Linked DNA regions of Homo sapiens: region 1 is linked to region 2. Evidence: fine-mapped expression QTL. A gene starts in region 2. The other region holds a variant in brackets. All regions are shown on one strand. Distances are between the middles of the regions. Region 1 overlaps RANBP10 (RAN binding protein 10). Region 2 holds the start of LRRC36 (leucine rich repeat containing 36).

What was found.
Region 1: its variant is fine-mapped to the expression of LRRC36 in visceral fat (GTEx, PIP 0.92).

What each region holds. Positions count from the first base shown.
Region 1 is chr16:67,788,700-67,801,095 of GRCh38, reverse strand. The region is part of intron 2 of RANBP10 (RAN binding protein 10); the gene reads left to right. Among named protein-coding and RNA genes, the nearest start is that of RANBP10, 12 kb to the left of the region's middle. The variant G/A (reference allele first, on the strand shown) is at 5,685.
Region 2 is chr16:67,320,245-67,332,640 of GRCh38, reverse strand. LRRC36 (leucine rich repeat containing 36) reads right to left here and starts at 5,826. Exons shown (of 14, transcript NM_018296.6): 1 at 5,709-5,826. The coding sequence starts at 5,778. It overlaps KCTD19 (potassium channel tetramerization domain containing 19), which reads left to right and starts at 5,900. Exons shown (of 16, transcript NM_001100915.3): 1 at 5,900-5,936; 2 at 11,756-12,052. The coding sequence starts at 5,934. It also overlaps the pseudogene RN7SKP118. RefSeq lists a silencer at 5,784-5,933 and an enhancer at 7,689-7,768.

The DNA.
Region 1 (12,396 bases), 470 kb before region 2:
TGGAGAAGAACACACTAAGCTAGTCTAATAAGGAAAGTTTCATGTCAAGATTTCACAGAATATTTATATATACCTACTATGTTCCAGGCCCTATACTAGGTATAGGGAGAACAGATGTAAAGCCAGCACAGATCAGCTTTGTCCTCAGGAAGCCTGTGGCCCATTCAGTAGAGAGTGGACTGAAAGTCTTTCTGCAAGAGGAGGCAGAGCCTGGGAACAGTTGGGAGGAATGAGTAGGAGTTCCCCAGTAGGCGAGACCTGTTAGACCTATGAGTCTGATGGGTAACTAGCTTGACTTCTGGGTGCTAGGCTTTCTGGGCACTCCTCAAGTATAAGAGAGCTCTGTGGAGTAGGAGGGGCTGTGTTTGAGCTAAGAGCTTGGCACAGACTGATGGGCTTCAACTGCATTTTGCCGAGTCACCAGAGCTGTGAACTCGGGGAGCGGGTCTGGTGGGGTGAGGAGACATCAGAGCACTGCCAGTGGTGCCAGGAGATAAGGGGCATCCAGGTCTGTCTTTCTAGGAAGCGAAGGAGGGCCTGAAGCTGAGGGTCCCTGGGGAGGAGCAATGTCTGCAGGCAGAGTTCATGGACCTGTGGGTGTCCCTGGCTCTTAGTGATGACACATGGAGGGTGTGGCTGGCTAGGCTGACAGATGCTCCAGTGTGACCCTCAAAATAGACTGTAACATCATCCCAGCGGCGGAGGCCTCCTGACATGTGATGGTTGCTTTACCCAAGAGTAGTAGGCCTGGGCTAGAGCACTGGAAGGCATGGAGAGGGGTGGGGGCATTTTCCTCTGTAGCCAGTGTCTGGGCCCAGGCCCAGAGCAGGGGTCTCTGACCACAGCCAGCCTTCCCTTGCTCCTGCAGCTGACTTCCTTTGGCCAGGCAGCAGTGCACTCATTCATTCATTCCAGACACCAGGGCGCAGTACCCATTGTTTTTTTTTTTTGGTTGTTGTTGTTGTTGTTGTTTTTGAAACAGAGTCTCGCTCTGTTGCCAGGCTGGAGTGCAGTGGCACAATCTTGGCTCACTGCAAACCTCCGCCTCCTGGGTTCAAGTGATTCCCCTGCCTCACCCTCCCGAGTAGCTGGGACTACAGGCGTGCACCACCATGCCCAGCTAGTTTTTGTATTTTTAGTAGAGACGGTGTTTCACCATGTTGGCCAGGATGTTCTAGATCTCTTGACCTCATGATCTGCCCTCCTCAGCCTCCCAAAGTGCTAGGATTACAGGTGTGAGCCATCACATCCATTGTTTTGTCCCAGCCTGGGCCCCAGGAGCACAGGCATGAGGCCCCACCGGTGGTGTCGAAGGGTCAGGCCACCGTATGTGTCATATCCAGGGGTGGCCTGGAGGATGGACTGTACCTCAGAGTTTGAGGAAAACATCATAGAATCATATAAGAGGTGATGTGGGCTCTGGAAAGAGGAGTTAGAGTGTTCTAGGTGAACAAAGTGAGAAGCAGATGCTTCAGGCAGAAGAAACAGTGCATAAAAAGACATGGAGCTGGCCGGGCGCAGTGGCTCACACCTGTATTCCCGGCACTTTGGGAGGCCAAGGCGGGCGGATCACGAGGTAAGGAGATCGAGACCATCGTGGCTAACATGGTGAAACCCCGTCTCTACTAAAAATACAAAAAATTAGCCAGGCATGGTGGCGGGCGCCTGTAGTCCCAGCTACTCGGGAGGCTGAGGCAGGAGAATGGCGTGAACCCGGGAGGCCGAGCTTGCAGTGAGCCGAGATCGCGCCACTGCACTCCAGCCTGGGCAACAGAGCGAGACTCTGTCTCAAAAAAAAAAAAAAAAAAAAGAGATGTGGAGCGCAGAACATGAGGTCGGTAGGGCCAGACTGAAAATACCTTGTGTGTGGCCTGGCTCATGCCTGTAATCCCAGTACTTTAGGAGACTGAGGCGGGCAGGTCACTTGAGTTCAGGAGTTCGAGAACAGCCTGGCCAACATGGCGAAACCCCATCTCTCCTAAAAATACAAAAATTAGCCAGGCGCTAATAATAGTGGTGGTGCATGCCTGTAATCCCAGCTACTTGGGAGGCTGAGGCAGGAGAATCACTCGAACCTGGGAGGTGAAGGTTGCAGTGAGCCGAGATCACGCCACTGCTCTCCAGCCTGGGTGACAGAGTGAGACTCTGTCTTAAAAAAATAAAAAAGAAAATACCTTGTATGCTGTGGCCAGGGAGCGTGGGCTGTATCTTGAGGGCAGTAGCAGTGTGGGGGGCTGTGGATCTACCCATGCTTTTGAGAGTGAAGAAAAGAAGAGACTCTGCCAGTCTGGTTCAGCCAGGCTTCTCTGGCCAAGAGCCCTTGTCCAGGGTGGGCCAGTGACTTTAGGTCTTTGGCTCTAGCATGGTTTTCTCATAGCGGTTGTCTTTTTTTCTCTTGGCTGTTCCTTTGGTATGAAGAGATGAAGGGATGGGGTGTGAAAGACTGGTAGCCAGGAGGCTTCTCAGAGGTGAGAGGACTCTGCTTGTGCTGGAGTTCTGGTATTTTGGTTTTGCCAGCTCCCATCTGAAAGACAGTAATGCCCCATGTTTTATACCCAAGCATCTCCTCTGGTGAGCCAGAATCAGCCAAAGTGATTTTCCATGGAGACCTAGAGAGCCACTGTTAATTAAGATATCTTGATTAAGATCTCACCTGCCACATTCCTGGTGTGGAGGACCATCTAAGCTTAGGCCCTTCCAGCTGAGAGACAGCTGTGGCTGGCTTCTCACCCTGGATCCCCTCACCAAGTTCCAGTCTACATGCATTGTACAGTGCTGTTGAGAACTTTGGTGCTCATATGTCATCTGGGGAAGGCGTTGTCCTGCCCGCCCTGATAAGAAGGTGCTGTCCTTGCCCAAGGTAGGTACAGGCCGTGGTTGTGCCCCATTTTCCCTTACTGCCCCCCGGAGTTGATGGTCTTACAGGCAGATGCTGAGCTTTGGGCTGCACTTCTACTCAGGTAACACATTGTGCTATTTGTGGAGACATGGAATGTTTGGGTTCTGGAACACAGGGTAGGATGTTTGGGTTCTGGAACACGGGGTAAGAGAACTGGAGTCTAGATGGTGGCCACTGTTCTTTGCTTTTTTTTTTTTTTTTTTTTTTGAGAGAGGGTCTCTCTCTGTCACTCAGGCTGGAGTGCAGTGGCACAATCATGGCTCACTGCAGCCTCGACCTCCTGAGTTCAAGCAATCTTCCTACCTGAGACTCTTGAGTAGCTGGGACTACAGGTGCATGCCATCATGCCTGGCTAATTTTTATTTTATTTATTTAATTTATTTTTTGAGACAGAGTGTTGCTCTGTCACCCAGGTTGGAGTCCAGTGGAGTGATCTCGGCTCACTGCAACCTCCGCCTCCCAGGGTTCAAGTGATTCTCATGCCTCAGCCTCCTGAGTAGCTGGGATTACAGGCGTGTGCCATGACACCTGGCTAATTTTGGTATTTTTAGTAGAGACGAGGTTTTGCCATGTTGGCCAGGCTGGTTTTGAACTCCTGACCTCAAATGATCTGCCCACCTCAGCCTCCCAAAGTGCTGGGACTACGGGTGTGAGCCACCATCCCCAGCCCTGGCTAATTTTTAAATTTTTTGTAGAGACAGGGTCTTGCTATATTTCCTAGGCTGGTCTGGAACTCCTACGCTCAATCAATCCTCCTGCCTCAGCCTCCCAAAGTGCTGGGATTACAGGCATGAGCCACCACACCTGGCCTGTGGCCACTTTTCTGGTAGGGCCTCCCTCCTCACTGTATGTTGCTACCCAGGCTCCAACTGTGAGCTGAGAGTGGGGAGCGTCGTTGCCTTCTTTATAGCTGGGGCCTTCTTGGTCAAGGATTAGCTTTTAGAGAAATTCCTAGAATTCACTTCACCTCCTGCCTTTCTGCCTTGATGGTGTTTTTGTTCTCTGGAACTTTTGGTCTTTTCCCTGTATGGGTCATGGTGTAAGGGAGATTCCTTGTTAGAAGAGAAGCAGAAGCTCATCAGGCCAGAGCACAGGAGGATGAACCTAGCAGCCCCATGTGGCAGGCACTGTGTGCCATTCCTATTATGGGACCATTGGGAAGGAATAAAGGGCTCCAGAGTGGGTCTTGTGTGGTCGGGTCAAGTTGGAAAGAAGGGACTCATCAGTGGAAGAGGGATGGATAATTATGTCTAAATGCAAAGATGTTCCTCTGCCTCTCCATTCTGTTCAAAATCCATATAAAATGTCTTTGTAATTCTAGGATCGTTGGTGTTGTGACTTGGTGGTGGAACAGAGCCTAGCCCTTCTGTCATGAAGGGGCCAGAACAAGATGCTCTGTACTATATAGGGAAGTTGGGAGGGGACTGGGGAAGCCCTTGGCACCCCTCTTATGCCATTTCTTGTTACTTAACTCTTGGAATTAGAGATGCTTGGGGTTTCAGGGGAGTTTAGTTTAGGTCAGGGGTGGCAAGTGTGAAGGCCCCAATACCCCACAATACCCTCAGCTTCTATGACCAACATTACTGATTGACAGTAGCACTTGTTCTTGTCCAGACAGAGCCCAGAATTTTTCTCAATGCACAGCACATCAGGCAGCTATAATTTACTGGTCAGAGTTTCATCATGAGATGAAATCTACTAGCCCTCAGGGTGGAGGTGGTTGGAAGATAAGTGGATAGAGGCCCAGATGGTTGAGGGCTCAGCTTATTTCTTCTAAAGGAGAGTCCCAAGGCAGAGCTGAACCAAGAGGAAAGAAACAGAGGGGTTGGATTGCTGAGTAGAACTGATTCTAACCCAGTTTATAAAGCCATGTATCTGAAATTGGCATGGACTTTTTAAAAAAATGGAATGCCCTGTTTTTATAACAACTTGCACCAGTAGTTTGTCAGTAGTTATATTTACTTTTATAAAAATCAAAATAGGCTGTGTGCTGTGGCTCACACCTGTAATCCCAGCGCTTTGGGAGGCCGAGGCAGGCGGATCACAAGGTCAGGAGTTTGAAACCAGCCTGGCCGACATGGCGAAACCCTGTCTCTACTAAAAGTAAAAAATATTAGCTGGGCATGGTGGCAGGCGCCTGTAATCCCAGCTACTCAGGAGGCTGAGTCAGGAGAATCACTTGAACGCGGGAGGTGGAGGTTGCAGTGAGCTGAGACTGTGCCACTGCACTCCAGCCTGGGCAACAGAGTAAGGCTCTGTCTCCAAAAAAAAAAAAAAAAAATCAAAATATTTTTATTTTACGTATAGAAAACATTTGTTTGTTTGTTTGTTTGTTTATTTTTGAGACGGAGTCTCACTCTGTCGCCCAGGCTGGAGTGCAGTGGTGCGATCTCAGCTCACTGCAAGCTCCACTTTCCGGGTTCACGCCACTCTCCTGCCTCAGCCTCCTGAGTAGCTGGGACTACAGGTGCCCGCCACCGCACCTGGCTAATTTTTTGTATTTTTAGTAGAGATGGGGTTTCACCGTGGTCTCGATCTCCTGACCTCGTGATCCACCCGCCTCGGCCTCCCAAAGTGCTGGGATTACAGGTGTGAGCCACCGCGCCCGGCCGAAAACCTTTATTTTTAAAAAATTATTTTATTTGTTTGTTTATTTTGAGACGGAGTTTCACTCTTGTTGCCCAGGCTGGAGTACAATGGCACGATCTTGGCTCACCATAACTTCCGCCTCCCGGGTTCAAGCGATTCTCCTGCCTCAGCCTCCTGAGTAGCTGGGATTACAGGC[G/A]TGCACCACCATGCCTGGCTAATTTTGTATTTTTAGTAAAGACAGGGTTTCTCCATGTTGGTCAGGCTGGTCTTGAACTCCCGACCTTAGGTCATCCTCCTACCTCAGCCTCCCAAAGTGCTGGGATTATAGGTGTGGACCACCGCACCCAGCCTATTTATTTTTTTGAGGCGGGGTCTCACTCTGTTGCCCAGGCTGGAGTGCAGTATTGCAATCATGGCTCTGCAACCTCCCCTCCTGCTCAAGAGATTCTCCCACCTCAGCCTCCTGAGTAGCTGGGACTACAGGCACATGCCATCATGCTCAGCTAATTTTTTTTTTTTTAAGTAGAAATGGAATTTCACCACTTGCCCAGGGTGATCTTCCTGGGCTTAAGTGATCTGCCTGTCTTGGCCTCCCGGAGTACTGGGATTACAGGTGTGAGCCACTGTACTTGGCCTTTTTTTGTTGCTGTTTTTTTTTTTTGTTTTTTTTTTTTTTTAATTTGAGGCAGGGTCTCACTCTTGTCACCTAGGCTGGAGTGCAGTGGCAAGATAGTGGCCTGAAATTTTTTTTTTTAACTGTTAAAGAATATGTAGGATTTTTTTTAGGCTGGGCCCAGTGGCTCAAGCCTGTAATCCCAGCACTTTGGGAGGCTGAGGCAGGTGGATCATGAGGTCAGGAGATCAAGACCATCCTGGCTAACACGGTGAAACCCTGTCTCTACTAAAAATACAAAAAAATTAGCTGGCCATGGTGGCACACACCTGTAGTCTCAGCTCTTCGGGAGGCTGAGGCAGGAGAATTGGTTGAACCTGGGAGGCGGAGGTTATAGTGAGCCGAGATCGTGCCACTGCACTCCAGCCTGGGAGACAGAGTGAGACTCCATCTCAAAAAAAAAAAAAAAAAGAATATGTTGGATTTTTTTAATACCTGATAAAGTCTACGTTTAAAAAATACACAGCAGGCCGGGTGTGGTGGCTCGTTTTTTATTTTGAGACGGAGTCTCGCTGTGTCACCCAGGCTGGAGTGCAGCAGCATGACCTCGGCTCACTCCAACCTCCGCCCCCTGAGTTCAAGCAATTCTCCCGCCTCAGCCTCCTGAGAGCTGAGGTTACAGGCATGCACCACCATGCCTGGCTAATTTTTGTATTTCTAGTAGAGATGGGGTTTCGCCATGTTGGCCAGGCTGGTCTCAAACTGCTGATCTCAGGTGATCTGCCCGCCTCGGCCCCTCAAAGTGCTGGGATTACAGGCTTGAGCCACCACCCCGACCAGTCCCAGCACTTTGGAAGGCCAAGACGGAAGGATTGCTTGAGCCTAGGGGTTCAAGACCAGCCTGGACAACATAGTGAGACCCCCACCTCTACGAAACATTTTTAAAAATGAGCGGGGTGTGATAGAATACTTCTGTAGACCTAGCTACTTGGGAGGCTGAGGCAGGAGGATTGCTTGAAACCAGGAGTTTGAGGCTACAGTGAGCTATGATTGAGCTACTGCATTCCAGTGTGGATGAGAGAGTGAGACTCGTCTCAAAAATAAATAAATAAATAAATAAAATAAAAAATAAAAATAAATAGCAGAGGGATAGAGAGATGCAGGTTTAAACAAATGCAGGCTTATGGCCATTATGTGCATAGTACTAGTAGAAGCAAATGCAGAAAACAGAAACCAGAAATTTCCAGTAGAAAGGGGTTTAATATATGGACTTTGATGCTTATAAAATTATCAAGACTTAGAATTTTCATGTAGTGGTGGACTAGGCTACTTAAATAATGTCTCCGATTGAAAATAAGATGGCAGATAAAATATTACAAGCGAGGCTGGGCACGGTGGCTCACGCCTGTAATCCCAGCACTTTGGGAGGCTGAGGTGGGCGGATCACCTGAGGTTAGGAGTTTGAGACCAGCGTGACCAACATGGTGAAACCCTGTCTCTACTAAAAATACAAACATTAGCCAGGCATGGTGGCGTATACCTGTAATCCTAGCTACTCGGGAGGCTGAGGCAGGAGAATTGCTTGAACCTGGGAAGCGGAGGTTGCAATGAGCCGTGGTCGTGCCATTGTGCTCCAGCCAGTCAAACAAGTGAAACTCCATCTAAAAAAAAAAAAAAAAAAAAAAATTACAAGCCAGCCAACTCAAGGCCAGTGTCTGGATGAACACCTGTAACTAGAGTTAAGGGTAGTGTCTGTGTACCAAAGGACATTTGTGGTGTTCACACACTGCTATGCTTGTGTGCTTCAGCTCCGTAATTACACAGGGCCATAGAGGTGGAGGTTAGACCCCTGTGGGGTCTAATGGGAACTCTCTCAAATTAAGCTGGGGCATTAGTGGCTACACCCTCCGGTTACGGGCAGTGCCTTTGGGTTTTTGAATGTGGCAGGCTCTGGAAAGTCAAGGTTTGGTACTTGAGACTCTGTTAGTACATTAGAGAAGGAGCTCAGAACCAAGGATGTGTAACCTGCCTAGGGCCACCAATAGGGGCTGTTCTGCCCCTTTTGTCTGGTAATCTCTCGGGGTGCTTTGATAGTGCTGGTGACATTGGGCACATGAGGGTCTCCTGACCCATACACAGAACCACATTTCTCCATACGAGCACCCTAACTTGAGGCCCCTTTGCTTTCTGGCCTATTCTTTTTTTTTTTTTTTGAGACGGAGTCTTGCTCTGTTGCCAGGCTGGAGTGCGGTGGTGTGATCTTGGCTCACTGCAACCTCTGACTCTCAGTTTTAAGCGATTCTCCTGTCTCAGCCTCCTGAGTAGCTGGGACTATAGGTGCGTACCACCATGCCCAGCTAATTTTTGTATTTTGTATTTTATGGGGCTTCACCATATTGGCCAGGATGGTTTCGATTTCTTTTTTTTTTTTTTGAGATGGAGTCTCGCTCTGTCACCCAGGCTGGACTGCAGTGGCGGGATCTCGGCTCACTGCAACCTCTGCCTCCCAGGTTCATGCCATTCTCCTGCCTCAGCCTCCCAAGTAGCTGGGACTACAGGCGTCCGCCACTACGCCTGGCTAATTTTTTTTTTGTATTTTTTTTTAGTAGAGATGGGGTTTCACCGTGTTAGCCAGGATGGTCTTGATCTCCTGACCTCGTGATCCGCCTGCCTCGGCCTCCCAAAGTGCTGGGATTACAGGCGTGAGCCACGGTGCCTGGTCTAGCCTATATTTTTTGAATAGTTCTAAGGCCCAGGTCACTCATCTCTGTAATGCCCTTCCTCTTAGTAGCAAATCTACACAGAATTGGGCTCAGTGGGTGACTGCATGGCTTCCTGGGGCAGGGGCGGGTATGGTTGCTTGCTGGAGGAGCAGCTTACACGTAGCAGCCAGTGTCATGATGGACTGAAGCTTGCTTTATTTATTTATTTACTTTTTTTTTTTTTTTTTGAGACGGAGTCTCACTCTGTTGCCCAGGCTGGAGTGCAGTGGTGTGATCATAACTCACTGCAGCCTCAAACTCTTGGGCACTAGCAATCCTCCTGCCTTGGCCTATCAAAGGCTGGTATTACAGGTGTGAGCCAGCACACCTGGCATTGACTATGGCCTTAAGTGGGCCGATTAGACTATGAAATAAAATTCCTAGCACTGAATATTAGCCCTCATTTCAGACCTAAATATCAGTTGTTGTTTTTCCTGAACCATCTTCCAAGGATCATTTTGTAACTGAGGTCCCAGAGTTCCCCTTTGATGTAGAGGCTGTTGATTTCTTTTCTGGGGCAGGTTCTGATAGCAACAAGATTGCCAGCCTGCTGAACTGTGGCTAAGGTATTAGATGTCAAGATGAAACTGTCCAGTGAGATTCCTGGAGCCCCTGGGAGGTCTAGGGTTGGGGGTACTGGTGACTAGCCCTTTCACCTGAGGGTAGGTGGCAGAGCTGGTACCTTCCTGCAGCCTCCAACAGCCATCTCAGCCCTGAGGCTGAAGACCTTGTCTCTTCTCTCCTTTTCATCACTTCCTACCAGAGCCCTGTGGGTGTAGGGACATCCTGCTGATGGAGCTTAAATTTAAAACGTCGAGCCCCATTGGCTCCTGTATCTTATGCAGCAGTTCTTAAAAGTGCCCATAGGCTTGCCAGCCCATGAAATATACCTTCCCTCTAAAAAGAAATTGGTAAAACTGGGCCGGGCATAGTGGCTCACACCTGTAATCCCAGCACTTTGGGAGGCCGAGGTGGGTGGATCACGAGGTCAGGAGATCAAGACCAGCCTGGCTAACATGGTGAAACCCTGTCTCTACTAAAGATACAAAAAATTAGCCAGGCGTGGTCGCACACGCCTACAGTCCCAGCTACTTGGGAGGCTGAGGCAGGAGAATCGCTTCAACCCGGGAGGCAGAGGTTGCAGTGAGCCGAGATTGCGCCAATGCACTCCAGCCTGGGCGACAGAGCGAGACTCTGTCTCAAAAAAAAAAAAAAAGAAATAAATTGGTAAAACTGGCCAGGCTCTGTGGCTTATGCCTGTAATCACAGCACTTTGGGAGGCTGAGGTGGGTGGATCATGAGGTCAAGAGTTTGAGACCAGCCTGGTCAACATGATGAGACCCCGTCTCTACTAAAAATACAAAAATTAGCCAGGCATGGTGGCGAGTGCCTGTAATCCCAGCAGCTCAGGAGGCTGAGGCAGGAGAATTGCTTGAATCTGGGAGGCGGAGGTTGCAGTGAGCCAAGACTGTGCCACTGCACTCCAGCCTAGGCAACAGATTGAGGCTCCATCTCAAAAAATAAAAAAATAAAAAATTGGTAAAAGTAGAAACAGTTGGGTCCTTCTTCACTCTTGTCATTTGCTGTGGGCTAAGTGCGGGACTTCTGGCCCCAATGTGAGGCCAGAATACTCTTATGCTGCCCATTGTGCTCTGTGCCAGGGCCTCCCTTGTCTCATCGGGAAAAGCCAGATGCGGTCCTTGCTGGTTTGCAGGGCCATAGGGGTGTTCTTGGTGTCTCTGTGTATGTGTGTGTGGTAAAATATATGTAACATAAAATATGCCATTTTATCCATTTTCAGTGTGTAATTCAGTGGTATTAATTGCATCCACAATGTTGTGCAACCATCACCATATCACTGTCTATTTCTAGAACTTTTCCATCACCCCAAACAGAAACTCTGTACCCATTAAGCAGTAATTCTCCATTTCTCCTTCCTCCTAGTCCCTGTTAACCTCTGATCTACTTTCTGTTTCTATGAATTTGCTTATTCTTGATAGTTCATGTAAGGGGAATCCTACAATATTGGTCCTTTTGTGTCTGACCCATTTCACATAGCATTATGTTTTCAAGGTTTATCTGTGTTGTGGCATGTTTCATAACTTCATTTCTTCTTCTTCTTTTTTTTTTTTAATTTGAGACAGAGTCTCATTCTGTCACCCAGGCTGGAGTGCAGTGGTGCGATCTCGGCTCACTGCAACCTCCGCCTCCCAGGTTCAGCAATTCTCCTGCCTCAGCCTCCCGAGTAGCTGGGATTACAGGTGTGCACCACCACGCCCAGCCAATTTTTGTATTTTTAGTAGAGATGGGATTTCGCCATGTTGGTCAGATTGATCTTGAACTCCTGACCTCGTGATCCGCCTGTCTTGGCCTCCCAAAGTGCTGGGATTACAGGTGTGAGCCACTGCGCCCAGTCCATTTCTTCTTATTTATTTATTTAGTTGTTTTTAAGATATATGGTTGTCTGGGCATGGTGGCTCATGCCTGTAATCCCAGCACTTTGGGAGACTGAGATGGGTGGATCACCTGAGGTCATGAGTTTGAGACCAGCCTGACCAACATGGTGAAACCCCGTCTCTACTAAAAATACAAAAAATTAGCCAGGCGTGGTGGTGTGTGCCTATAATCCCAGCTACTTGGGAGGCTGAGGCAGGATAATCACTTGAATCCAGGAGGTGGAGGTTGCAGCAAGCCGAGATGGTGCCATTGCACTCCAGCCTAGGCAACAGAGTGAGACTCCATCTCAAAAAAAAAAGAAATATGGTCTTGTTCTGTTGCCCAGACTGGAGTGCAGTGGCACAATCATGGCTCACTGTATCCTTGAGCTCCTAGGCTCAAGAAATCCTCTAGCCACAGCCTCCTGAGTAGTAGCTAGGATTGCAGGCATATGCCACCATGCCTGGGTACATTTTTTTTTTTTTTTGAGATGGAGTCTTATTCTGGTGCCCAGGCTGGAGTGCAGTGGCATGATCTTGGCTCACTGCAACCTCTACCTCCCAGGTTCAAGCTATTCCCCTGCCTCAGCCTCCTGACTAGCTGAGACTACAGGCGTGCACCACCACACCTGGCTAAATTTTGTATTTTTAGTAGAGATGGCATTTCACCATATTGGCCAGGCTGGTCTTGAATTCTTGACCTCAAGTAATCTGCCCGCCTCAGCCTCCCAAAGTGCTGGGATTATAGGCGTGAGCCACTGTGCCCGGCCTGCCTGGATAATTTTTTTTTTTTCCTCTTTTGAGACGGAGTCTCACTCTGTTGCCCAGGCTGGAGTGCAGTGGTGTGATCTTGGCTCACTGCAGCCTCCACCTCGGTTCAAGCTATTCCCCTGCCTCAGCCTCCCAAGTAGCTGGGACTATAGGCGTGTGCCACCACACCTGGCTAATTTTTGTATTTTCAGTAGAGATGGAGTTCACCATGTTGGCCAGGCTGGTCTCGAACTCCTGACCTCAAGAGATCTGCCCGTCTCGGCCTCCCAAAGTGCTGGAATTATAGGTGTGAGCCACTGTGCGCGTCCTGCCTGACTAATTTAAAAA
Region 2 (12,396 bases):
CATTCTTTAATGATTCACATGAATGCATGTCTTAAGAGGTTATGCATTTCGTTTCAGTGTTTATTTATTTATTTATTATTTTTTTTTGAGACGGAGTCTCGCTCTGTCACCCAGGCTGGAGTGCAATGGCACCATCTTGGCACACTGCAAGCTCTGCCTCCCAGGTTCACGCCATTCTCCTGTCTCAGCCTCCCAAGTAGCTAGGACTACAGGCGCCCACCACCATGCCCAGCTAATTTTTTTGTATTTTTAGTAGAGACAGGGTTTCATCATGTTAGCCAGGGTTGTCTCGATCTCCTGACCTCGTGATTCGCCCTCCTCAGCCTCCCAAAGTGCTGGGATTACAGGCGTAAGCCACCGCGCCTGGCCGTTTCAGTGTTTATAAAGAGTGAAGACAAATCAGAGAACAAATCAAACACTGCACAGCATAGATGCCAAGAATAAAAGAATGATCTTCCAATTTTAATATATGGGTTACATAACCCCAGTGGGCAAAAATTTGCTATTTGAAAATAACAAATCAAGTAGTCTCTCTAATGAAAACCATTTACAGCTCATTTGGAAATTGAATTAACAACCTTTAACAAAGCTTATTTATAATGACAATGAATGTTTCTAATAAATAAAACTTTTTCTTTTTCTTTTTTTTTTTGAGATGGAGTTTCGCTCTCTTTGCCCAGGCTGGAGTGCAATGGTGTGATCTTGGCTTACTGCAACCTCCGCCTTCAGGGTTCAAGCGATTCTCCTGCCTCAGCCTCCCAAGTAGCTGGGATTACAGGCATGTGCCACCCCGCCCAGCTAATTTTTATATTTTTAGTAGAGATGGGGTTTCAACATGCTGGCCAGGCTGGTCTCAAACTCCCAACCTCAGGTGATCCACCCCCCTCGGCTTCCCAAAGTGCTGGGATTACAGGCGTGAGCCACTACACCTGGCCATAAAACTTTTTTAAAAAGACCTCAGGAGTCAACTTGAAAGATCACCTATTAACTAAAGTTAGGATAAACTGAACATCAATTATGATAAGAACTATAATGGATTAAAACTTACATTGAAATATATTGCTATGGTTTGAACGTCCCCTCCAAAACTCATGATGAAATGTATTAATTTATTCAGAGATAGGGCCTTGCTCTGTCAACTAGGCTGGAGGGCAGTAGCACTATCATAGTGCACTGCAGCCTAAAACTCCTGGGGTCAGAGGATCCTTCCACTTCAGCCTCCTGAGTAGCTGGGACTACAGGTACACACCACCAACACCCAGTTAATTTTTAAATTTTTTGTAGAGACAGGATCTTGCTGTGTTGCCCAGGCTGGTCTCAAATACCTGGCCTCATCCTCCTCCCTGGCCTTCCAAAGTGTGTAAGCCGCCATGCCCAGCTTTCATGTTGAAACGTAATTGCCAATGTAACAGCACTGCGAGGTGGGGCCTCTAAGAGGTGATTAGGTCAACGGTGGCTTCATGCTGTTATCATGGAGTTAGTTATCACGGGAGTTAGCTATCCTAATAAAGGAATTAGTTCAGTCTTCTCTCTCTCTCTCTCTCTCTCTCTCTCTCTCTCTCTCTCTCTCTTTCTCTCTCACATCTCACACATGCACCTTCTGCCCTTCCACCATGGAATGACCCTCACCAGATGTTGGCACCATGCTCTTGGACTTCTCAGCCTCCAGAACCATGAGCCAAATCAACTTCTGTTCTTTATAAATTACCTAGTCTATGGTATTCTGTTATGACAAGAGAAAAGGGACTAAGACATTTATTTATTTATTTATTTATTTAGACTGAGTCTCAGTCTTTCGTCCAGGCTGAAGTGCAGTGGTGCGATCTCAGTTCACTGCAACCTCTGCTTCCCAGGCTCAAGTGATTCTCCTGCCTCAGCCTCCTGAGTAGCTGGGATTATAGGCACCTGCCACCATGCCGGGCTAATTTTTTTTGTATTTTTAGTACAGATGAGGTTTCACCATGTTGGACAGACTGGTCTTGAACTCCTGACCTCAGGTGATCCATCCTCCTTGGCCTCCCAAAATGCTGGGATTACAGGCGTGAACGACCATGCCCAGCCCTAAGACATATATTTAAATCGATGAGTTTATAATGATACTGAGAAAGCAAAACAGTCCTCACTGGTCACCTTTGGAGAATGCTAAGAAAATAACTCATCATTCTGAAAGCTGGCATATAAGGTGAAAACAAATCAAGCTTTTATGCTGCCTTTCCTATACAAACTGTACCTCAGGATAAGCAAACAGTTGATGTGAGGAAATTTCTCTTTATAGAAGTATTACAGTTAATGAAGAAAAATGAAAGAAATAGACAATTACCATTTTGCAATCCCTAATGAATTAACTTAGGTAATCATATTCAGTGGCTGATATCACGAAAAGAAAGAACACTAGGCACCATATACTTCCTAACATAAACATACACCATTACCTATGAAATCGTCTTGTGAAAAAAAAAAAATCCAACCTGAATCTGATTAAGCCTCATCTAACTACCAATTCATAGGAAGTACAGGGAACACGGGAAAATGTTTAACATCTTAGGAATGCAATGAGCAAAGTTCAGGTTATAGTAAACTCTTTCAAAGCCAGTTTCTTCAAAAACAATTGAAAATGCGAGGGAAAAAAAATGGGGAGCCTACAGATCAAATAAGACTTAAGACATACATCAACCAATTGCAATATATGGACCATATACGGATTCTTATTTTATTTTATTTTTTAGATGGAGACTTGCTCTGCCACCCAAGCTGGAGTGCAGTGACGCGATCTCAGCTCACTACAACCTCCGTCTCCCGGGTTCAAGCGATTCTCCTGCCTCAGCCTCCCAAGTAGTTGGGATTACAGGTGTGAGCCACCATGTCCAGCTAATTTTTGTATTTTTAATAGAGATGGGGTTTCACCATGTTGGCCTGGCTGGTCTTGAACTCCTGGCCTCAAGTGATCCACCCACCTTGGCCTCCCAAAGTGCTGGGATTACAGGCATGAGCCAACGCACCCGGCCATGGATTCTAATTTTAAAAAATTATAGGACAACTGGGGAAATAAGAACACTAGTTAGATATTTCATGATATCAAGAAATCACTGTTCACTTTAGGAGGCTGAGTCACTTGAGGTCAGGAGTTCAAGACTAGCCTGGCTAGCATGGTGAAACCCCGTCTCTACTAAAAATACAAAAAAATTAGCCAGGCATGGTGGCACATGCCTGAAATCCCAGCTACTCAGGAAGCTGAGGCAGGAGAATTGCTTGAACCCTGGAGGCAGAGGTTGCAGTGAGCTGAGATCATGCCACTGCACTCCAGCCTGGGCAACAGAGCCAGACTCCATCTCAAAAACAAAACAAAACCAAAAAAAGAAATTACTGTTAAATTTTTTAGGTTGCATATGTGACTTTTTTTTAAAGTAATCTTAGCTTTTAAAAATACATACTGGCCAGGTGCTGTGGCTTGCACTTATAATCCCAACTCTTAGGGAGGCTGAGGTGGGTGGATCACTTGAGGTCAGGAGTTCAAGACCAGCTTGGCCAACATGGCAAAACCCTGTCACTACTGAAAATACAAAATTAGCCGGGCGTGGTGGCGGGTGCCTGTAGTCCCAGCTACTTGGGAGGCTGAGGCAGAAGAATCGCTTGAAATGCGGAGGTGGAGATTACAGTGAGCCGAGATCACGCCACTGCCCTAGAGCCTGGGTGACAGAGCAAAACTCTATCTGAAAAATAATAAAAACAATAAATAAATAAAATACTACTGAAATATTTATGGAGGAAATCACATACTTGGAATTTGCTTCAAAATAGTCAGTGTAGGGGGTTGGAGGTGGGTGGAGGATAGGTGAGGTATACGTGAAAGAAGCTTGGCCATGAATTGATGATAACTGTTGAGGTAGGCTAATAGAGTTCATTATTCTGTTATCTCTACTCTTGTATATATTTGAAAATTGCCATAATATAAAATTATAAAATAAGTGATAAATGCTTATATATGTAGAGAATATTTCTGGAAAACTATCCAAGATACTGGTAACAGTAATTGCCTTTAGGAAGGGGAACTAGGCCTATGAGACGGGGATGGGGGAGTAAAGACTTTCTTCTCACTGTACAATTTTTATTTTATTTATTTATTTTTTCGAGACGGAGTCTCACTCTGTCACCCAGGCTGGAGTGCAGTGGCGCGATCTCGGCTCACTGCAAGCTCCGCCTCCTGGGTTCACGCCATTCTCCTGCCTCAGCCTCCCGAGTAGCTGGGACTACAGGCGCCCGCCACCATGCTCCGCTAATTTTTTTTGTATTTTTAGTAGAGACGGGGTTTCACTGTGTTAGCCAGGATGGTCTCGATCTCCTGACTCGTGATCCGCCCGCCTCGGCCTCCCAGAGTGCTGGGATTACAGTCGTGAGCCACCGCGCCTGGCCCTCACTGTACAATTATTATATTACCCACAGAATAAATTAATTGAATTATTTTAACAGTCAAAATGAGTAAATATTACATATTTCCCCCCTCTACCAAATTAATCATTAGACTACCGACATGCTCTAGTATATCCTTCCTGTTCTGTTCTTGACTGCACATCATACGCTTCAGCTACCATCTATTTCTGCAGTCTCTTTTACAGCTAAAATTTTCAGCAAAAGTTCTTACTTTCACTGTCTCTTCCCCTCAAATATCATTTCCCTTTTTCATCCCACTCCAATCTGGTTTCCCTCCTCCCCACCCTCCCAAAACTCCCTCTGTCAAGGTCACCAGTAAGTTCCATGTTGCTAAATCTAACAGACACTCTGCATTTAAGTTGCTCAGCCTGTCAATAGCATTTGGCACAGTTGGCCATTGCTTGCTCGATACACTACCCCTTCTCAAATTCCAAGATACCACATTCTTCCTCTATACAACCTCTAAACACTGAAATATTCCAAGGTTGAGTCTTAAGCTTTCTTTCACTTCTCCATCGACATTCTCTCCTTAGCTGAGTTCATCCACTCCCGTAGCTTTAAATACCACCTATTGCTAATGTCTCCAAAATTTTCATCTCTAACCCTGACCTCTCCTCTGAGGTCCAGACCCATATATCCAACTGCCTACTAGGTACCTTACACTTGGATGTCTAATAGACATTTTATTATTTATTTATTTTATTTATTATTATTATTTTTGAGATGGAGTCTCGCTCTGTCGCCCAGGCTGCAGTGCAGTGGTGCGATCTCGGCTAACTGCAACCTCCGCCTCCCGGGTTCAAGCGATTCTCCTGCCTCAGCCTCCCGAGTAGCTGGGATTATAGACTTGAACCACCACGCCGGGCTAATTTTTGTATTTTAGTAGAGACGGGGTTTCACCATGTTGGCCACGCTCAGGTGATCCACCCGCCTCCGCCTCCCAAAGTGCTGGGATTACAGCGGTCAGCCACCGCCCCCCGCAGTTCTGTCACCTGCGGCAGGGTCCCCTGTTAACCTTGTTTCTCCTTCCCTACTTCACACTCCCCTCTTCTCTCTCAATTCCTCGGGCTCTGCCCCACACCCTCCCGTTACTTCAGTTCCTCCACCTCCACCTCCCTCTAACCTTCTGCCTCAAGTTATCCCCCCGCCCCCCAGCCTCAGGTACCGCTTCTCTGTGGTTCCCTCGCCTCTATCTCAGGTTCCCCGCCTTCCACTTCAGTTTTCTTTCCACAGCTTCTGACCCTACGTTCCCAGTCCACACCCTCCCGGCCAGACCCTACCCGGCTGCTCCAGCGTCAGCGCCCCCAGGCGGCGAATGCCTTCCTCGTCCAGCTCCCATTGCTCCGCCATCCCCGCCCGCCGCTCACCTGCCACCGCCCGCGAGACCACCCGGCGCACGCCAGGCCCCGCCCACTGCCCCGCCCCCCGCGCGCGCGCCGCCGCGACCCCGGGAACCGTTATTGGCCGGGTCACAAGCCCGCCCGCCCGCTGCTGGAGCCGCGACCATGGTACGGAGCCCGCTCTGGCGGGGGCGCCAAAAGCACCAAAGCGGCGAATGGGGGCCGCTGTGGCCAAGGATTGGGGCTAAGTGGTTCGAGACCTGGCTCTGGGGCATGGGAGAGAGCGAGGGGCCCCCAGCCGGGAAGGATTTGGGGGGCTGGCTCTGAGGAGTTAGAATAACGCTCTGTCTTGAGGGATGAAGTGTTCTGGCTCTGAGGATGTGGGGGACTCCGGTTCTGAGGGCTGGGCGTGTGCCCCTTTGACGGGGTGGTCTTCATATCTCAGCGCTGGGGGATGCTGACTTTGGGGCAAGGCGAGGGTGTGTGTGAAGGGGAGATCCAAATCTGAAGGATTGGAGCGTGGGGACAGAACTCTAAGGCATGATGGGGAGCTCCAGATCTGAAAGGTTGGGAATCCTGGCTCTGAGGAGTTGGGGTCCTGTCTTTAGAGCATGAGGAAGTTCTAGCTCTAGAAATTGACTTGGACGGGCTGGGCGCGGTGTCTCACGCCTGTAATCCCAGCACTTTGGGAGCCCGAGGTGGGCGGATCACCTGAGGTCAAGAGTTCAAGACCAGCCTGGCCAACATGGTGAAACCCCATCTCTACTAAAAATACAAAAATTAGCCGGGTGTGGTGGCACGGCCTGTAGTCCCAGCTACTCGGGAGGCTGAGGCAGGAGAATCGCTTGAACCCGGGAGGTGGAGGTTGCAGTGAACCGAGATTGCACCACTGCACTCCAGCCTGGGCGACCTGAGTGACAGAGCCAGACCTTGTCTCAAAAAAAAAAAAAAAAAAAAGGTAAGAAATTTACTTGGACGGAGCTTCTTCGGGGGAGAAGGATCAGCGTGGGAAAGAGAGAAGCTCTTTGTAATGGGGTGGGGATGACTGCTTTAGGGCTACCCCGTTTCCTGAAGTCAGTCCGGCAAGAAGCCTTTTGTCTTTCAAGCACCACAGGTTCCCCTAAGCTTGCCTGTGACTGAGGGCTGTCGCCAGGCTGCGATAGCTCTGCACTAACCAGCCCCTGAGTAGTCTTTGGGAAAGAACAGCCGCATCCCTAACCCCTACCCTCACTCCAGCAGGCACTTAAGAGCCCACCTGTGGATGGGACATGTATGTAAGAAGGAGCCAGGACCCTCTTGTCACACCCTATCCTTAACAAGAAAAGAGGGTGGGCTGGGCGTGGTGGCTCACGTCTGTAATCCCAGCACTTTGGGAGGCCGAAGCATGTGGATCACGAGGTCAGGAGATCGAGACCATCCTGGCTAACACAGTGAAACCCCATCTCTACTAAAAATACAAAAATAAAACAAAATAAAATAAAATAAAATAAAATAAAGCCGGGCGTGGTGGCGGGCGCCTGTAGTCCCAGCTACTTGAGGAGGCTGGAGGCTGAGGCAGGAGAATGGCGTAAACCCGGGAGGTGGAGCTTGCAGTGAGCCAAAATCGTGCCACTGCACTCCAGCCTGGGCTAGAGAGCGAGACTCCGTCTCAAAAAAAAAAAAAAAGAAAAAAAGAAAAAAAGAAAAAAAAGAAAGAAAGAAAAGAGGAACTGAGACCAGAACTGGGGCTCACCTTCGAGAAGTAGGTTTTCTTTGGCATCCAACATCTGCACACTCTGAGCACCCCCATTGAGCTCTCAGCCACCTTTAAGGAGAACAGAAAGCAGAATCAAGGGTCCTTCCTTGCATATTTATGCTTTCTGGTCTATGTGAGACCCTTAGTCACTCCATTTGTTACATTCAGCCTTTGCCTGAACATGAACTTGTAGAAAGGCTTTTAGAAGGGCTGGGACTTAGAATTCTAGGTTAGCTCATTAGATTGACTTTTCTGGCTCTGCTTCTGTCAGTTATGCAATCATTTCACAATTTGTCATATTTCTCTTATTACCCCCTTTAACTCTTCTAGTCTCAAATGTGGCATATATAATTGCTCTTCTTTATGTCTGAATATTGCTGTGGGAGAGATGGACCCCATCCCATTCTTTCTTGCATGCATTTATTTTCCTTCCTCAGCTGTCAGAATGGGAAATGCAGGTTCTTTCTGGAGCAGGGAGCTTTTCCTTTCTTAAGTAATCACCTCTTACTTTAACACTGTTTTTCCCCCACGAACGTCTTAATGCAATTTTATAAACACAGAAAGATTGAAAGAATTGTACAGTGAGCACCATATATCCACCACCTGCATTCTACAATCAACATTTTGCTCATATTTGTTTTATCACATGTCCATCTAGCAATCCTATCTGTCCATCAATCTGTCTTTTTTAAATTCATCTCAAAATAAATTGCAGATATCAGTACATTGCAGTCCAATCACTTCAGCCTGCATAATTTTTAATTAGAATTCGATATTGTTTTATGGTTCTTTTTAGGTAAAATTCTATATACTATTTACTACCCTTTAAAAAATATTTTTACAAGGGTAGTGCCCTTTATTTTAAAATTTGATATGGATGGTTTGTATGTTTGATGGCTCTCTACTTTTCCATCGTATTGATAAACTAGGTCATCTTGAAACAAAGAAGACAATTCACTTATAAATAGATGACCTTAAACTTTTTTTTCAACAACCTCTTGTCCAACAGATGTACAGATGACCTTAAACTTTTTTTTCAACAACCTCTTGTCCAACAGATATACAGATGACCTTAAACTTTTAACAATGAGCTGAGGAAGGTTAGTGATCTTTGCTGCCTTTGTATATATGAAAAGGTATCTATAGCATTCATCCTCCAGTAATGTAATGTCTCTGCAGGTAAGATCCCAAGAGAGTTCTGCATGCGCTCCATGGAATGGACAGTACCTCATCTTTTTTTTTTTTTGTAGATCTATTGAGATATAATTCACATACCATACAATTCACACATTTTAATGTGTACAATTCAGTGAGTTTTAGTATGTTCAGAGTTGTGCAACTATCATCACAATCAATTTTAGAACATTTTCACCATCCCCAAAAGAAATCCCATACTCATTAGTAGTCACACCCCATCTCCCCATAGCCTCTCCAGCCCTAGGCAACCACTAATCTATTTTCTATCTCTAGAAATTTGCCTTGTCCACACATTGCATGTGGATGGAATCATATGTGATTTTTTGTTTGGCTTCTTTCCCTTGGCATAATGTTTCGAATTTCATCCATGTTGTTATCATGTATCAGTACTTCATTCCTTTTTATTTTTTATTTTTTTAGAGACGTGCCTCACTCTGACGCCCAGGCTGGAGTGCAATGGCACGATCACAGCTCACTGCAGCCTCAAACTCCTGGGCTCAAGTGAATCTCCTGCCTCAGCCTTCCAAAGTGCTGGGATTACAAGCACAAGCCACCATGTTCATCCCATTCCTTCGTATTGACAAACAATATTCCATTGTGTGGATATACTACATTTTGTTTACTCATCTGTCAGTTGATGGACATTAGGTTTATTCCAACCTTTTGGCTATTATGTTCTATGAACATTAGTCTAGAAATTTTGGTGTGGACATATGTCTTTATTTGTCTTAAGTGTACACCTAGGAGTGGAATTGCTGGCTCATAGTAGAATAACTCCATGCTTTACATTTTCAGGACCCACCAAACTGTTTTCCAAAGTGCCTGCACCATTTTACACCTCCACCAGCAGTGCATGGGGGTTCTGGTTTCTTTGTCGACACTTGTTATTACCTATTGTTTTCATTGTAGCCATACTAATGGGTGTGAAGTAGTATTCTGTTGTGGGTTTTGATTTGCATTTCTCTGATGACTAAGGATGTTGAGCATCTTTTTTCGTTCTGTTGGTCATTTGTATATATTCTTTGGAGAGATGTCTATTTAGATGCTTTGCCAATTTTTAAATTTGGTTGTCTTTTTGTTATTGAGTTTAAGAGTTCTTTATATATTCTAAAAACAAGTTCTTTATCAGACAAATGATTTGCAAATATTTTGTTCCATTCTGTGAGTTATCTTTTCACCTTCTTGATGGTGCCCTCTAAAGCACAAATGTTTTTAAATTTTGATTAAGTTCCATTTATCTATTTTTTTGGTCACTTTTGCTTTTAGTGTCACATCTAAGAAAGTTTTGCCTACTCCAAAGTCATGAAGATTTTCTATTTTCTTCTAAAGATTTTATGGTTTTAGGCTGGGTGCAGTGGCTCACGCCTGTAATCCCAGCACTTTGGGAGGCCAAAGCAGGTGGATCACGAGGTCAGGAGATCGAGACCATGCTGGCTAACACAGTAAAACCCCATCTCTACTAAAAATACAAAAAATTAGCCGGGCGTGGTGGCGGGTGCCTGTAGTCCCAGCTACTCAGGAGGCTGAGGCAGGAGAATGGAGTGAACCCGGGAGGTGGAGTTTGCAGTGAGCCGAGATTGTTACCACTACACTCCAGGCTGGGTGATACAGCGAGACTCCGTCTCAAAAAAAAAAAAAAAAAGATTTTATAGTTTTAGGTCTGTTTCACTTGCAGCTAATTTTTGTGTATGGGTTGAGGTAGGGGTCCAACTTTATTATTATTGTTATTATTATCTTTTATGCATATGGATGGGCAGTTGTCCCAGCACCATTTTTAATAAGGACTATTCTTTGTCCATTGAATCATCTTGGATTGCTTATCAAAATTCAATTGATCATAAGTGTAGGGGTTTTATTCTGTACTCTCAATTCTATTCCACTTATCTTTATATTTATCCTTATGCTGGTAGCACACTGTCTTGATCTAGCTTTGAAATAAGTTTTAAAAGTGTGGGATGTGAGGGTGATCTGGCTGTGACATCTGTCACTCCATTGATTGCCAGGGTTGATTTGGCTGATCTGGCTGTCTAGGCGGGTGTCCCCTTCTTCCCTCAACGCTCCACGTGCGTCCCTCCTGAAGCTGCGTGCTCAGTCAAAGAGGACGACCATCCCCAATAAAGGAGGACCAGTCTTCAGTCAAGGGTATACAAGTATCTGCTCTTCCTAGCTAGAACCTCCAAACAAGTTCTTAAGATCCGTTGTAGGAGAACGTAGGGTAGTCAAGCTTCCAAGACTTCAGACACATCCTAATGAGGCGCTGCATGTGGCAGTCTGCCTTTAAAAAAAAAAAGTGGGAAATGTGACTTCTTAAACGTTCTCCTTTTTTCAAGACTGTTTTAGCTATTCTGGATCCCTTGTATTTTCATATGAATTTTAGCATCAGTTTTTCAATTTTTGCAAAAAGTCAGGATTTTCACAGAGATTGTGTTGAATTTGTAAATCAATTGGGAGACTATTGCCATCTTAACGATATTAAATCTTCCAATCCATGAGCATGAGATATTTTTTCATTTATTTAGGTCTTTTAAATTTTCAACAATGTTTTGAAGTTTCCAGTGCACATGTATTTCATTCTTTTGTTAAATTTATTCCTAAGTATGTTATTTTTGATGCTATTGTAAATGGAATTGAATTGTTTTCTTAATTTCACTTTCAGATTGTTCATTGCTGAAGTATAAAAATACAACATTTTTAAATATTGCTCTGCATCTTTCAACCTTGTTGGGCTCATTTTTTTGTTTGTTTTTCTTTTTTGAGACAGGATCTTGCTCTGTTAGGCCAGAGTACAGTGGCACAATCATAGCTCACTGCAACCTCAAACTCCTGGTCTCAAGCCACCTTCCCACCTCAGGCTCCCAAAGTGCTTGGATTACAGGTGTGAACCACCATGCCTGGCCTGGACTTATTTCTAATAGTTTTCTGGTGAATTCCTTAGGATTTTTTATATACAAGATCATGTCATCAGCAAACAGAGATAGTTTATTTCTACCTTTTCAATCTGGATGCCTTTTTATTTCTTTTTCTTGCGTAGATCTCTTTTTCATTCCCCCTTTAGGAGGAGTCTGGCATGGCTCATGAATCAGCAGAGGACTTGTTTCATTTCAACGTAGGGGGCTGGCATTTCTCAGTTCCCAGAAGCAAACTCTCTCAGTTTCCAGACTCCCTGCTGTGGAAAGAGGCTTCAGCCTTGACCTCTTCAGAAAGCCAGAGGCTATTTATCGACAGAGATGGTTCCACATTTAGGCACGTGCACTATTACCTCTACACCTCCAAACTCTCCTTCTCCAGTTGTGCAGAACTGAACTTGCTGTATGAGCAAGCATTGGGTTTGCAGCTGATGCCTTTGCTGCAGGTAAGATGCTCTTGTTTTCTGGGAGTGGTGGATCAGTAACATGGCTTTACATCACTAAATATTGTTTCCTGTTATATATTGGTTGCTGAGATGACCCTCTTAATGGGCAAATGTAATAAGTGTGTTAAAGTAATAAATAATTTCCTCATTAGTATAGGGGTGAGTAAAAAGGAAAAAAAAGTAATAAACAATACACTGAAATTACCTGCTTTTGTTTTTTCGAGACAGGGTGTCTGCTGCAATCACAGCTCACTGCAACCTCCACCTCCCAAGCCCAAAGGATCTTCCCACCTCCCACCTCAGTCCCTCTGAGTAGCTGGGAACACAGGTGCATGCCACCATGC